3 separate regions of the Homo sapiens genome follow, and all the other regions are linked to region 1. Evidence: fine-mapped QTL for protein levels in blood plasma. A gene starts in region 1. Each other region holds a variant in brackets. All regions are shown on one strand. Distances are from middle to middle. Region 1 holds the start of IL20RA (interleukin 20 receptor subunit alpha). Region 2 overlaps IL20RA (interleukin 20 receptor subunit alpha). Region 3 overlaps IL20RA (interleukin 20 receptor subunit alpha).

Region 1 (5,339 bases):
CAACAGAAAGAATTTGCTGTAAGGAATTGGTTAAACAGATGTTGGAGTACTAAAAAAGTAAAGCAGGAATACTGAGATTGAAAGAGACAGAGTGACTACTAGAAGCAACTACCACCGTCAGGGTTAAAGGAACACAGGGCAGACGTGGGGTTCAGATCCCAGAAGCGAAGCCTCCAGGAAACTGGGACTCAGACCTCTGAGAATGGGGCATAGCCTACTCAGTGCTGGTATTTCTCAGGAGATGCAGTGAAGCTGATTCTGGGAGTACAGGAAGAAGCTGGGAACTAGAAACAATTGCTCCTAGAACTAGCTGTCCCTGCCAGGGTAAAGAGGCACTGTGGGGCCTTAGTGACAAGAACAGCAAACAAATAGGAAGCAAGTCCCTTCTTTCCTCATCCAGCTTTCAGGATTCCTTCAGGGCCCCTTTTGGTGGAAAGGAAAAGAACCAGCTAACAAACAAGAAAAGTGGTTTGAAGAGGCCTCACGTCAGCACCACGAAGCTAACATCCCAGCCTAAGGGGCCCTCTGACCCAGATTCCTCCTCTGTTTCCAAGTCTTTCAGGAAGGAAAAAGTAGCATACTTAGGCGACTCAGAAAATCCTGCCCCATCTTCTATCTCCTTACTCCCTCCTCACCAAAAAAGATCTTTTTTAATACTGAAGACCCCCTTTAAAAAGAAAAAGAAAAAGAAAAAGAAAACAATAGTTGCTCTAATTTGAGTGTCGTTTCCCTTTATTGGAGCATTTGAAAACAGACATTTAAGGGCAAAAGAGATGGAACACATCTGAGGTAAATCGTGTATCTATCTTCAGGCTGTGCCCAACCTTTAGAACCACCTAGAAAGGTACAAAGCTGAGAGCCTCTCTCAGATTTTTCATATAGTATTTCAAGACTCACCTCTTAATTGCACCCTTCCCCCCTCCCATTATAAAGAGCATGGAACCTAGGACCCACCGCCTTGTGTGGAAGTCCACACACCACTGGTCACAGGCCACTCACAGGTTTGGGGGACTTCATGATGATTCCTAGACTTTCTGAGTTTCCCTTGCCTCATCTGAAAAAAGGGCCAGGACCTAACTGCAGGTTGTGAGAGTTGAATGAAATCAAATAACAACTTTTCAGTCAGTGACAGACTGCATATACAAAGGTGGTCTCATACGATTATAATAGAGCTGAAAAAATTCCTATTGTCTCTAAAGACCTTCCAGGAGGACAGGATGTGAGGTGGCATCAGTGGCACTGACAATCCTGACCCTGTGCAGGCCTAGGCTAATGTGTGTGGTTGTGCCTTAGTTTATAACAAAAAAGTTTAAAAAGTAAAGAAAAAATAAAGAAAAAGAAAAATTTAAAAATAGAAAAAGCTTATAGAAAGAATACAAAGAAAAAATATTTTCATACTGCTGCACAATGTGTTTGTGTTTTAAGTCAAACGTTATTACAAGTCAAAAAGTTTAGGTCGGGTGTCGTGGTTCACGCCTGTAATCCCAGCACTTTGGGAGGCCAAGGAGGGTAGATCACCGGAGGTCAGGAGCTCGAGACCGGCCTGGCCAACATGGCGAAACCCAGTCTGTACTAAAAATACAAACAAATTAGCCGGGCGTGGGGGCACACACATGTAATCCCAGCTACTCTGGAGGGTGAGACAGGACAATCATCAAAACCGGAAGGCAGAGGTTGCAGTGAGCCGAGATCGCACCACTGCACTCCAGCCTGGGCTACAGAGCAATGCTCCATCTCAAAAATAAATAAATAAATAAAGTTTAAAAGATTTAAAAGTAGAAAGTAAAAAATCATAGTAAGCTAAGGTTAATTTATTATTATTGAAGAAATAATTTTTTAATAAATTTAGCATAGCCTAAGTGTAATACAGTGTTTATACAGCCTATAGTAGTACACAGTGATGTCCTAGGCCTTCACATTGACTCACCACTCACAGACTCAGCCAGAGCGACTTCCAGTCCTGCAAGCTCCATTCATGGAAAGTGCCCTATACAGGTGTACCATTTTTAAAATCTTTCATACTGTACTTTTGCTGTACCTTTTCTACGTTCAGACATGTTTAGATACACAAATATTTACCATTGTGTTACAATTGCTTGCAGTATTCAGTATGGTCACTTGCCGTACAGGTTTGTAGCCTAGGAGCAAACAACAGCCTGTACCATATAGCGTAGGCGTGTAAGAGGCTATACCATATAGGTGTGAGTACACTCTAAGATGTTCACACAAGAAACTCGCCTAAGACATTTCTCAGGAGGTAATCCTGTCATCTTAAATGATGCATGACTGTAAGATCTACGGCTGAGTGCCTAACTGTATATCGAGAAATAACGCTCTATTTCATCCGTCTTCCGATATTGAACTTTAACTGACCATCAGACCGGCCTGAATACCAGAATCTCTTTGCAATGCACTCGCCTCGCTCATTACCAGAAGGAGGTTTTACCTGCCTAGTGACCTGGTTGGTCTGGGCATGAACCCCGAGAGGTGGAAACTCTCAGACTCTCAGGACTGACAGCCGAGTGGCTGGGGACTATAAATCCGCGAGAACTGCCCTCGCGCTGCCATCCAGCTGGGTAGCCGGGGGAGCGCGCGTGGGGGCTCCGCGAGTCGCTCGCCCTTGGTTTCTGGGGAAGCCTGGGGGACGCGGCTGTGGCGGAGGCGCCCTGGGACTCAGGTCGCCTGGAGCGTGGCACGCAGAGCCCCAGGCGCGGAGCTGAGGCCGCGCGGCCGCGCTTGGCCCCAGCGGGCGTGGGACTGAGCAGTCTGCTGCCCCCCGACATGTGACCCAGCCCCGCCGCCCATGCGGGCTCCCGGCCGCCCGGCCCTGCGGCCGCTGCCGCTGCCGCCGCTGCTGCTGTTGCTCCTGGCGGCGCCTTGGGGACGGGCAGGTAGGTGGGTCGCGCCGCCAGGTGCGGGTCGGGGATGCCTCCAGGCCGGGGCCCCGCCAGGCAGAGCTCGAGGCCGAGCTCTCCCCTCCTGCCCGCCGGCCAGGTTTCGCTTTCGGGCGGGCAGAGGACGAGGTGCGCGGAGGCCGGAGCTTCCAGCCCCGGGGCTGCAGGGAGCCCGGGGGACACTCGCCGTCGCCTCGCGCACCTTGGCTCGGGGTCAAGTTTGCAGGACTCCGCGCTCCGCACTTTCGGTCTCGAGAATTGAGGTGGGGTGGGGGGAGTTCGGTGGGGGGTGCGCTCTGCGCGGTGCCCACAGCCTATGACTTGCGGTCGGGGACGGTTACCATGCGGGGCCCCTCGCCGGCCAGTCCCAGGTTCCCGCCACCACCGCCGCGGCCGCGCGGAGGGGCCCCTGTGGATGCCGCGTCTCGGCCGCCGGGCCCCGCAGTCCTGCAAGCCGCGCGTCGCGAGATCCGCGCTTTAAAAGCCAAACTCCCCGAAAGGGTCAGCCCCGAAGGAACATGATCCAGAAAGACGCAGCTTCTTAAAGTAAGCTCCCCCTGTCCTGGGTACGCCGTTGTTTCCTTTGCAGTTATGACCATGTACAGATAGTGCTCTTTGATTTTTCAGAAATAACAAAACTTTTAACTCGTTTACGACATAAGGTAACTGAAGAGCTCTTTCGTTTTGTTTGGTTTTTAAGTTTAAATTCTCTACCAATTGGAATCCAGTAAACCAGAATGATTCATTAACCTGATTGCTTTTTTTCCCTGTATTTCTCGTACATGAGAAAAAGATTTTTTAAAAAAACAAAAAAGATATCCGGGATCCCTTTTTAAAAAAATTATTTTAAAAAACAACAACAAAGCTTCTCCAAATACTGTGCTTTGTAGACACTTCGTTCAGGCCCCGCTGTCTTTTAACCCAGAACTGAACAGTAAGAGTGAATGCAGGAAGAAAGTTGACGGTGAATCTGGAGTCCTTGGTAGTTAAAGAAAAAGTTAAATTCAATATAGTTACAACAATAAGAAAAGTATGCACACAGATCTTGGAGAGATTTTGAACGATAGCTATTATACATAAAATATTTTATCTTTTAAATTTATCAGAAATTATAGTTATTTTTCCTTTTAATATTCCCGGGTAGACTGAATGGGAAGAAACGACTGACGTGCAAATATTGAGCCTTCAACTAACAGACAGAAATTTGTTTTTATTTTTAATCGAAGAGAGAAGCTGGGCGCTGTGGCTCACACCTGTAATCCTAACACTTTGAGAGACAGAGACATAGGCAGGAGGATGGCTTGAGGTCAGGAGTTTCAGACCAGCCTGGGCAACATACGGAGACCCCTGTCTATACTAAACATTAAAAAAATAAAAATAAAAAACTAGCCAGACGTGGTGGCAAAAACCTGTAGTCCTAGCTACTCCGTGTGCCCAGGAGTTCCAGACTGCAGTGAGTTATGATCACGCCACTGCACTCCAGTCTGGCCAAGGGTGAGACCCTGTCTTTGGGGAAAAAACCAAAAACAAAGAAAGTGAGAGAGAGAAATAAAATTGTTGGGTGCTGACATTACCAGGTAGTAATGTTCTTGACTTCAAAATAAAATTTACAAAACAAAACAGTAAGAAATCTTTTCTGACCCAAGAGACCTTGATACTACTTTCTTAGCTCTTCTTAGGGTATTCCCGTCCTCTCCTGGGTCTTTGGGCTAAGGTCTAAGGACTGCTGGGAAGACCACCTTAGAAGATGTATGTAGTTACCTGGATACTACCTGCTCGTAATTGAAGGATTATCTACAATGTCTTCTGTACAACGTGGGCTTACTAAGGTTCTATGACTTTGCCACTCTCAGGTAGATTAATGCTTTAATGCTCTCATTTTTTAAACTTCTAAAAATTTTCGTCTCACAGCTCAGTGCCATATCAGGCTGTAAAATACCAAAACATCCAAAGAGGAAAAAAAAAACTCAGCATGTCATGAACCTTGTAGGGAAATCTTGGTATTTCATTTCAGATAAAGTTGTAATGGAATTCAAAATGTCTATGCGGCTCCCTCAAGGCAGGTGCAACACGCTGTCATTCACTCTTGGACCCCTCCAGGGACAGAATTTCACAGTGAAGTTTATCCTTATGGCTTATCAAACTCCGCCCTATTGGCCATTCCCATATCCTGTTCTCAGGAACGATAAAGAACCATGATTAGCATAATATAAACAGGCATTTAAAGTCACTAAGATAGAATGGGAGATGGTGACTTCTCAGGTCATCTGCCTCCTCTGCTCAAAGCCCTTCAGAGGCTTCTACTGTTCCTGGAATCATTCTCAGTTCTACAAGATCCTGTGTGGCCAACTCCTGCCTGTCTCTCCAGCCTTATCTCACACCACCTAATTCCTGCTATCCTGGCCTTTTTCTACTTCCCAGACAAGCCAAAGTGTTTCCCATCTC
Region 2 (5,000 bases), 35 kb after region 1:
TCAAGGCATCAAAAGTGAACATCTTATCTTCCCCTCCTGCTCTGCCTCCCCATCCATTTCCCAAATCTGTTCTGTCTCAGTGCTCTTTTTCGTAGTAAATATCACCACCATTCCACCCATCTGCCCCAGACAGAAAGAGACAGCATCCTTAACACCTTCATTTCCCTAATCTGTTACATGTTTTCTATCACCAAGTCCTATCTCCTAATATTTCTTGCTTTTGTCCTGTCCTTATTTATCCTACTGCCCCTGTCCTTGTCCAAGCGACCTACATCTTCCCCTGGACCACTGTAGTGTCCTCTCAGCTGTTCCCTAGGCTGCCACTTGTAACCCATCACCTTTCCCAAACTGCCTCCCCTGTCCCTTTCACTGGCTTATCACATGTTACCTGAACTCTACACTTCAGTCTCTCCCACCTGAAAAGGGCTGAAAATATTGCCACCTCCCTATTTGCTATGGGGGTTGTGTTTTTAATAAAGAAAAGGAAAATCAGTATGACCAATCTAGTCAATATTATCATCATCACTATAATTATCAAAAATGCAGATTTCTGTATGCACTCCAGCCTCGTGTATTTTCCCTAGAATCATTGATACTTAGATTTTTATATGCTATGAGAACGTCAAAGTAATTTTTCTTCCAAGAAAAAAATGACAAACTGTTCTTCAAACAATCCGTCAAACTGACCTCGTGTACATAGTAGACTAAAAACCTACACAGATAATTACTAGAAGAATTGATCACACAATATGTAAAAATTTCACTGTAGCCAAAGAATAACAGTAAAATATATGCTTCCAAAATATACTGTCCACATTATAATTCACAGAAAGAAAGGTGATTACAGAAACTCTGACTCATGTTCCTGACAGCTGATGAAAAAAATTGCCCACCGCAAAAGTGGATTCTTTTTTATCTCAATGACAGGCACTTTTGTTTTTCTGAAGAGAAGGTCGTCAGTTCCATTCAGTTTTATAAAATGACTGAGTTTTTTTATTGTAAAGTATAGAGGGCACCTCATTATTAATTCAGCTTCTTTCTTAGCAGATATGGGCAAAAGAAATGGCTGAATAAATCAGAATGCAGAAATATCAATAGAACCTACTGTGATCTTTCTGCTGAAACTTCTGACTACGAACACCAGTATTATGCCAAAGTTAAGGCCATTTGGGGAACAAAGTGTTCCAAATGGGCTGAAAGTGGACGGTTCTATCCTTTTTTAGAAAGTAAGTAATGCCATTATTGCAATGGTCAGTTAAACATGTATTCATATCAGGTTTAACAGTCTCAGCCTCACAGACAGCCTTGCCCAGAGGAAGGTACTCTGCTTGGCTGTATTCTGGACCAGTGGGTTGAGTGAGCAGGACAAAGTCCTTAACCTTGCTGGCTCTGAGTCTCACCTTGATTGACTGATTGATTGATTGACTGTAGAGACAGGGCCTCATTATGTTGCCAGGCTGGTCTCAAACTCCTGGGCTCATGCTATCTTCCCACCTCAGCTTCTCAAAGTGTTAGGGTTACAGGCATAAGCCACCGCACCCAGCCTGAGTCTCATCTTTAGAGTGAAAGGTTTAACCAAGTGGTCTCTAAGATCTCTCCCAGATCCAAAATTGATACTAGATGACAATGATATCAAATTTTGACTTTGTCTTACTACTTTGTGGAAGCTATGTAATTTGAGGAACAAAATGACTTTATTTAATGTGGGTTTATGGACTATTAATGTCTCCACAAGATTGATTAAACATTGTCCTGATTATCCACTATGCTTCTTCTTGTATGAACTTGGTAGTGTGATGATGTAATTTCCAAGTGTAACCCAGAATTAAGGCAACTTCTTCCTGGTATTTACTTTTAAAATGTTGCCATCCCCTGAGCTATGGCTGACTCAGTCATGAAGGACCCACTCAGGGCTGCCATAATGAGCTCTGCAAGTGCTCCATAAGTCCAGGAGCCCTTCCGGATCAGAGGTCAGAAAACTACCCTTGGGACAAATCCAACAACACCCTTTCTGTTTTTCTACAAGCCAAGAGTTAAGAATGGTATTTATATTTTTAAATAGTTTCTAAAAATCCAAGGAATATTTTGTGACATTGGAAAAGTAAAGGAAATTGAAATGTTGATGTCTATTCATAAATAAAGTTTTATTGGGGCACAAGCCACACTCATTTGTTTACACAGTTACCTTAGATTGCTTTCGCAATACAGCAAGAGTGGAGTAGTGCAACAAAGATCATATGGCCTGCGATGCCTGAAATATTTACTGTCCAGACCTTTAGGATAAAAGTCGCCTGGTCTCTGTTCTAGATCATTCTAATCACATCTCTGATTTTCCACTTATCAAGTCATGTTGTTGTCATTTATCACCAACTTTTCAAGTCACAGAAATCTTACAAACAGTTTTGATTGTATTAACCATCTACTGTTTATGCATGTGACTAAGGAAACAGAATACTTGAGTTTGCTGTTCTAACATGGGATCAGGCTGTGTGAAGGTTGGTTTCAAGGTTGGTTTCAGGATGGTTTCAAGATCTGGCATATCTCAGGCCCACCTTAGTACATTTTGGGGCATCTCCTGTAAGAAGGTGTCTTTTAAGGCTGGGCGCGGTGGCTCATGCCTGTAATCCCAACACTTTGGGAGGCCGAGGTGGACGGATCACAGGATCAGGAGTTCGAGACAAGCCTGGCCAACATGATGAAACCCCGTCTCTACTAAAAATACAAAAATTAGCTGGGTGTGTTGGCAGGCACCTGTAATCCTAGCTACTTGGGAGGCTGAGGCAGGAGAATCGCTTGAACCCAGGAGGTGGAGGTTGCAGTGAGCCGAGATCATGCCATTGCACTCCAGCCTAGGCGAGGGGGCAAGACTCCATCTCAAAAAAAAAAAAAAAAAAAAAAAAAAAAAGGATGTCTTTTAGGGCCTTGATCCAAGTAGGATTATATGGTAGCTTTACCTAAGGTAATTTTTCATCTGAACATGATAATACCCTCTTTCTCCCCCTTTAAGCACAAATTGGCCCACCAGAGGTGGCACTGACTACAGATGAGAAGTCCATTTCTGTTGTCCTGACAGCTCCAGAGAAGTGGAAGAGAAATCCAGAAGACCTTCCTGTTTCCATGCAACAAATATACTCCAATCTGAAGTATAAC[G/A]TGTCTGTGTTGAATACTAAATCAAACAGAACGGTAAGCCTGAAATGGAATGGGGCATACATTCATGTACCACTCTGTAGCTAATGTGGGAACAAACAACCCTGATGCATTGATTCTCTGCATGTGAATCTGGGAAGTCATGATGTTCAAAAGATACGCCGCACAAAATAAAGTTCTATATACAGAAATTTTACAGAACTAACTTCAGATCTTCTTTACAGAAACTCTGTTGACAGGATATGGTGTTGTTATTGGAGTGTAGAGAGATTGTACACTTCACTTTGATGAAGAGCTTTCACTTGCACAGTCTTTCTCTGAGAAGAAGAAAAAAATGTGAGCAAGGACCCAGGACAATGAATAAGAACTCTATCCATGTGTTGTTTAGAATTGTTCTCAGCATTGGTCCAGTTCCTGACCATGCTCTGCTGAGCTAAAGGAAAAGAGTATATTGAAACTGTTGCTGAAAAAAAAAAAAAAAAAAAAAGCTTATACTGATAGTAAAGAATTAAATGGTGCCTTGGTCTTCTATTTCCTTCTACAGTTATTTGTCTGGGGTGGTCCCAGAAATGTCTGGCTCTAACCAATGTTTGCAATTCCCTATCCTAGTGGTCCCAGTGTGTGACCAACCACACGCTGGTGCTCACCTGGCTGGAGCCGAACACTCTTTACTGCGTACACGTGGAGTCCTTCGTCCCAGGGCCCCCTCGCCGTGCTCAGCCTTCTGAGAAGCAGTGTGCCAGGACTTTGAAAGGTAAGCTTTAAAAAATCTTTGCTGGTCTAGGAAGGAGATCTGCTAAAACTAGAAGTCGGTATGATGGTTTAGACAAGGTTTTGACAAATCCGTGTCTAACAGAAACAGGTTGAGGCAAAGGCAGAAACAACTACCACCAGAAATGCGTGGAGCAGCCTGGGACTCTGCCATTGAGCTTGGCCGACGTTCAGAAGTGTTCTCACACCCTCGGAGAACTCATACAGGTCCCGTGTCCACTGCCAGCTTCTTTCCATGGTCCTTCGGCCACCTGCCTTGTGAATTAACAATGAAGAACTTTTACACATGCCTTTTTTCTTCTTTAAAATCATAATCACGCTGGGCATAGTGGCCCACACCTGAAATTTCAGCACTTTGGGAGGCCAAGGAGGGAGGATGGCTTGAGCCCAGGAGTTTAAGACCAGCCTGGGCAACATAGTGAGACCTCATCTCTATAAAAAATAAAATCAACCAGGCTTGGTAGTGCATGCCTGTAGTCCTAGCTACTCGGGAGGCTGAGGTGGGAGGATCACCTGAGCCCAGGAGAGGCTGCAGTGAGCCATAGGTGCACCACTGCACTCCAGCTTGGGCAACAGAGTGAGACCTTGTCTCAAAAAATAAAAAATAAAATCATAACCACTCTGATTGATAGAAATTCTGTGGTCTTCAAGAACATCAGACAATTTTATTGCTAGAAACAAAGCATTATTCTAAAACCACTGTAAAGCAGAATTCATTTTTTACTTTCCCTGGGGAATACTAATTATAGGTGCTTCCAGTTGTGTTCAAGTGCCACTAATTGGCTGCATGAGGGTCTGGGATCCACAAATCAGTGATCACTTCCTTATCCTTACAGTTGCTTCTCTCTATTTCCTTTTATTTATCTCCTCTTCACATTTTCTACACTGGGCTGCCAAGGAACCGTGATTGGAGATACCCATTCCTATGAGAAGACATAGAGTTGTGAGCTTGGCATTTGTTTAATTTTTCTGCCTTCACAGTGAGAGGAGCTTTAACTAAAAACTTGAAAATTGAAAAAAAATACATCCTAAAGTTTGCCTGCATCGAAGGGCTCTTCATCCATTATTCCTCCGCTTCTTTT
Region 3 (5,339 bases), 41 kb after region 1:
GGGTTAGTGTATACTAAATGCTATCAGTCATTGTTATGACTTTTTTCAATTAGGACAGGCTCAATCCAGGGACCAGGGATTGTATTAAGAGGGTTGGACTGAGTTATAGGCTACAAGCAGGGCAGGTGGTGTTCTGACACCCGCAGCATCCGCATCACAGCATTGGCACGTCTCTGTGTGGAACCTGGTGATGAATGTGCTCCTTGGGAATTGTGCAGGGTAACAGGCCCGCATGCGGAACTTTTCCCACCGGCTCTTGTTGACCACCCTCATCAGCCATGACACATCTGTTTCGCTTTCAACTGGATAGTTAACCAGATAGTGACTTTGCTGCTTTCTCTTGGGCCCAAGCATCAAGAGCATCCAACATTCTCCTGGATTAGAATGCTCCGGTCACACTCCTGCTGGTTTTGTTAGTGTGTAAGGAGCACACTCGGACTTTTGTCATTTGTGCTGAAGCTGCTCTTTTTCCTACAGCTGTATCAGTCAGGATTCTCCAGAGAAACAGGACCAATAGAATACATATAGATGCACATATCGATATATTTATTTGTTTAGAAATATTGATTTATTTTAAGGCGTTGGCTCACAGGATCGTAGAGGCTGGCAAGTCCGAATTTATAGGATAGGCAGGCTGGAGACCCACGGAAGAGTTGATGTTTGCAGTTCGCACCCAAAGGTAGACTCCTGGCAGAATTCCCTGTTCCTTAGGGTCATCAAGACATTTTTTATGAAAGTCTTCAATTGATTGGATGAGACTCACCCACATTATAGGTAGTAATCTGCTTTACTCAAAAACCTGCTGATTGAAATGTTAGACTCCCATTAAAAAAAACAACAACAACAACAACAAAAACCTTCACAGAAGGCTCTAGAATAATGTTTAGCCAAATATCTGCATACTGTGGCCTAGCCAACTGGACATGTAAAATGTACCATCACAACTTCCAAGTATACCACAGTGGCTTAACAAGTATGAGCTAGTCACAATGAGCTCTAGTCATCAGCTATATGGCCTGATTAATGGTGTGGGCCAGGGCTGCTTTTATTAAAACGATTTCCCAGGTCTTTTCATTTCCTCTGCGGACTTTTACTCATCATGAGCCTACAGCACAGCAGGCCCGGGAAGGGAGTTAACTGCCATTCGCACTGCACCCTGTCCAGCCACCTCCCTACACACATCCCCAGGCTCCAGCCCTACCCAGAAAGTCCAGCCAAACAGTGCAAGAACAGTTCTGCTACTCATATAAAAGTGGCGTCATGCATTCATGTCTTTCAGTGAACATGCAGAAAGATTGAGTCAAACAGGTGGCGTGGAAAAGTGGAGCAATTCAATGGGATCTTCACTGGAGGGTTTTGTTGTTTGTTTGAAATTCTGTGACTTACTTGAATATCAAATACACTTACTTTGAAATATAAGAACCTGCATGAATCTCATAGCCAGACATACGATGGTGGAATATGTGCTGACTTGGATGATTGATGTATCCTTAGTGTAAACATTTGAGGTACACTCAGATGATTCCTTCAGACCGTCTCTTGTCAGGGAGAGTAAGAATTCTGAGACCGCTTATAACATTTAGCTTAAGCTTCTCAACGTAGAGGTGAGAAAACTGAGTTCCCAAATGTAAGTGATCTGCACAGAAGCAGCTTAACGATACGAGGTTTTTCCCATCACATCAAATCACAACTATCTAATCCCTTCCCCCGAATTCCCACCTTTTTTTTTTTTTTTACAGATCAATCATCAGAGTTCAAGGCTAAAATCATCTTCTGGTATGTTTTGCCCGTATCTATTACCGTGTTTCTTTTTTCTGTGATGGGCTATTCCATCTACCGATATATCCA[C/T]GTTGGCAAAGAGAAACACCCAGCAAATTTGGTGAGTACTTGGTGTGGCAGGGTTCTTTATTATAATAGTACACCTCCAGGAGGACAGAAGAGGAGGTTCTAGAACAGATTCAGTTCCCTTTAAGGGCAGAGTGAATTTAAAGTTAAATAGCTGGTGAATTAAAAAACAGTTTCTGGGCTGGGCATGGTGGCTCACGCCTGTAATCCCAGCACTTTGGGTGGCCGAGGCAGTTGGATCACTTGAGGTCAGAAGTTCAAGACCAGCCTGGCCAACAGTGTGAAACCCCATCTCTACTAAAAATGCAAAAATTAGCTGGATGTGGTAATGCATGCCTATAATCCCAGCTACTCGGGAGGCTGAGACAGGAGAGTCACTTGAACCCGGGAGACCAAGATTGCGGCAAGCTGAGACTGTGCCACTACACTCCAGCCTGGGTGACAGAGTGAGGCTCTGAGGCTCTGTCTCAAAAAAAAAAAAAAAAAAAAAAAAAAGCTTTCTGGATTAGCTGACTAACAGAACATTTTCCTTAGCTTTGAAAAGATGTTCTATTTAACCACCAGATTATACAAGGTCCCACAGATAAATTCAATCATGATCCCTGCCCTGCCCTTCTAGAAGTTCAAGCCTAGTCGAGGACTAGAATTTCAAAATAACACATGAAGGCTAAGATGAGAGCAGGCGCTGGGAATTCTGGGGGTACAAGGAGGGCCCCAAAACCCTACACAGGGGCTCAGCTCTCATGCCAGGGCTTGGCTATGAGAGGTGAGTAGGAGTTAGGATCCGTAGTGCAGGCAGAAGAAACAGCAAGGTGGATGTGTGGAAACTGCATGACACCCCTAAACAAGGAGGCTCCAGATGAGGAGCTAGAGAAGAAGATGAGACTGGAGAGTAGGCAGTGGGTCCAAGTAAGGGGAGAGCTGGGGTGCTGTTCTAAGGAGCTAGGCCTCATTCTACTGGCAAAGAGAAATCTCCATAGGGTTTTAGGTTAGGAGCATCATAGTCAGTATCAAGGTTTAGATCCAACCAGATATTAGTTCCAGGAAAACTTAGAGCGGAGTAAGACTAGAAACAAGAAAAGCACCTAGGGAACTGTAGCTTTGTCCAGGGGAGAGAAGATTCAAGTCTAACAGGCGAGAGTGGGATATCAGTCTAGAGAGAAAGACATGGAATGGAAACACACTTAGGAGGAACATGGCCATGACTTAATCCTTCACAGTAAGAAGAAGCAAGAAAGAAGAAAGAATTAAACCCACAGAGGTGGGACAATGTGCTGAAGGGTTCTGAAGGGCTGAGCATATTTTTAACAATCAAAACCATTTTCTTGAGAACTATTAAAAGATGTGTTCACGTGTACATGATAACATACCTTGTTTCCTGTTAGTTCAGTTTATAAGTTTTTCTATGATTCTGCCTGCATTCAGGTTTCAGAGTTGGCTTCTTAATGGCATTGGGAGACCTTTTCTGGAAGGAACATTCACAGGAGAATTGACCACCTGTGATTTTTTTGAAACTTAAAATGTTGTAAAAGATTGAGGCTGAAGGTTCTGTTTTGTAAAGTTAAATGAAATCACATGGTAGAGTGACAATGAGGATTGTAACTCATGCTCTCTTAGATAACAGGTATCTTTCATGGTACCCACAGCAATATTTTAATCTCATCTGAGCTTCCTTGACATGATTTAGAGTTTCTCTGTCTACCGTAAACTGGCAGATGAATTTCCTTTTTTGGCTCTATTATAGCATGATAAGAATGGTGTAAGGGGTAAAAACCATCCCTGCTCATATATTTCCCTCCTTTTCTACATCCAGTTCTCATGCCTGTCTGCATTTCAAGTATATCCAAAAACAGGGCAGGTAGCCCAGGTAACCACAGCTTATTAACAAGTGCATAGCAAACTATAAATAAAACAGTGTCACAAACTCTGCCACACCCAGTCTTTGCTACTCTTCATGTGGCTGAGATTCTGACTTTACAGAATGTAAAAAAGGTCAAGAAATGAAGCAACTCCTCTGCCAGTTAGAAGAGGGGGCACCAACGCCCCAGCCCCAGCCCTGGACTGGAGAAATACCCACCCAGCGAATCACTTCTCGCTTCCAACTATCTTTTGTGTGTCTTGGGTCTCTTGCCTCCCAGTGAGTGAGGTTTTCTGTATATTGCAAGCATAACTTTCATTTACATGAGTTGGTAAGAGTAGGTCTTTAAAACTGTCTGGTGACAAGATATTCTACCTAACAGCTGTTTTTAATGTCTCTCTAAAGTGAAAAGGTGAAAATCATTCTCTTTTCTCTTTATAGATTTTGATTTATGGAAATGAATTTGACAAAAGATTCTTTGTGCCTGCTGAAAAAATCGTGATTAACTTTATCACCCTCAATATCTCGGATGATTCTAAAATTTCTCATCAGGATATGAGTTTACTGGGAAAAAGCAGTGATGTATCCAGCCTTAATGATCCTCAGCCCAGCGGGAACCTGAGGCCCCCTCAGGAGGAAGAGGAGGTGAAACATTTAGGGTATGCTTCGCATTTGATGGAAATTTTTTGTGACTCTGAAGAAAACACGGAAGGTACTTCTCTCACCCAGCAAGAGTCCCTCAGCAGAACAATACCCCCGGATAAAACAGTCATTGAATATGAATATGATGTCAGAACCACTGACATTTGTGCGGGGCCTGAAGAGCAGGAGCTCAGTTTGCAGGAGGAGGTGTCCACACAAGGAACATTATTGGAGTCGCAGGCAGCGTTGGCAGTCTTGGGCCCGCAAACGTTACAGTACTCATACACCCCTCAGCTCCAAGACTTAGACCCCCTGGCGCAGGAGCACACAGACTCGGAGGAGGGGCCGGAGGAAGAGCCATCGACGACCCTGGTCGACTGGGATCCCCAAACTGGCAGGCTGTGTATTCCTTCGCTGTCCAGCTTCGACCAGGATTCAGAGGGCTGCGAGCCTTCTGAGGGGGATGGGCTCGGAGAGGAGGGTCTTCTATCTAGACTCTATGAGGAGCCGGCTCCAGACAGGCCACCAGGAGAAAATGAAACCTATCTCATGCAATTCATGGAGGAATGGGGGTTATATGTGCAGATGGAAAACTGATGCCAACACTTCCTTTTGCCTTTTGTTTCCTGTGCAAACAAGTGAGTCACCCCTTTGATCCCAGCCATAAAGTACCTGGGATGAAAGAAGTTTTTTCCAGTTTGTCAGTGTCTGTGAGAATTACTTATTTCTTTTCTCTATTCTCATAGCACGTGTGTGATTGGTTCATGCATGTAGGTCTCTTAACAATGATGGTGGGCCTCTGGAGTCCAGGGGCTGGCCGGTTGTTCTATGCAGAGAAAGCAGTCAATAAATGTTTGCCAGACTGGGTGCAGAATTTATTCAGGTGGGTGTACTCTGGCCTCTTGGTTCATTATTTTCAAACAAGCACACTTGTACAATTATTTTCTGGGTACTTCCCATATGCACATAGCACTGTAAAAAATATTTCCCAAAG

What was found. PIP is the chance, under the fine-mapping model, that this variant and not a neighbour inherited with it causes the effect. Protein levels are from antibody-based Olink assays in UK Biobank. Linkage for the fine-mapping came from a reference panel and not from the study's own genotypes, which makes the PIPs less certain.
Region 2: its variant is fine-mapped to the plasma level of the IL20RA protein (UK Biobank, PIP 0.94). The variant lies in the coding sequence of IL20RA. If it changes the protein, the assay may bind it differently, which can mimic a change of level.
Region 3: its variant is fine-mapped to the plasma level of the IL20RA protein (UK Biobank, PIP above 0.99). The variant lies in the coding sequence of IL20RA. If it changes the protein, the assay may bind it differently, which can mimic a change of level.

The regions. Positions count from the first base shown.
Region 1 is chr6:137,042,193-137,047,531 of GRCh38, reverse strand. IL20RA (interleukin 20 receptor subunit alpha) reads left to right here and starts at 2,567. Exons shown (of 7, transcript NM_014432.4): 1 at 2,567-2,891. The coding sequence starts at 2,804. RefSeq lists silencers at 2,755-2,814, 2,845-2,954, 3,025-3,074.
Region 2 is chr6:137,007,500-137,012,499 of GRCh38, reverse strand. It overlaps IL20RA (interleukin 20 receptor subunit alpha), which reads left to right. Exons shown (of 7, transcript NM_014432.4): 3 at 1,048-1,226; 4 at 3,008-3,183; 5 at 3,757-3,901. Among named protein-coding and RNA genes, the nearest start is that of NHEG1, 17 kb to the right of the region's middle. The variant G/A (reference allele first, on the strand shown) is at 3,151.
Region 3 is chr6:137,001,161-137,006,499 of GRCh38, reverse strand. It overlaps IL20RA (interleukin 20 receptor subunit alpha), which reads left to right. Exons shown (of 7, transcript NM_014432.4): 6 at 1,740-1,879; 7 at 4,145-5,339. The coding sequence ends at 4,942. Among named protein-coding and RNA genes, the nearest start is that of NHEG1, 11 kb to the right of the region's middle. RefSeq lists an enhancer at 4,129-4,672. The variant C/T (reference allele first, on the strand shown) is at 1,849.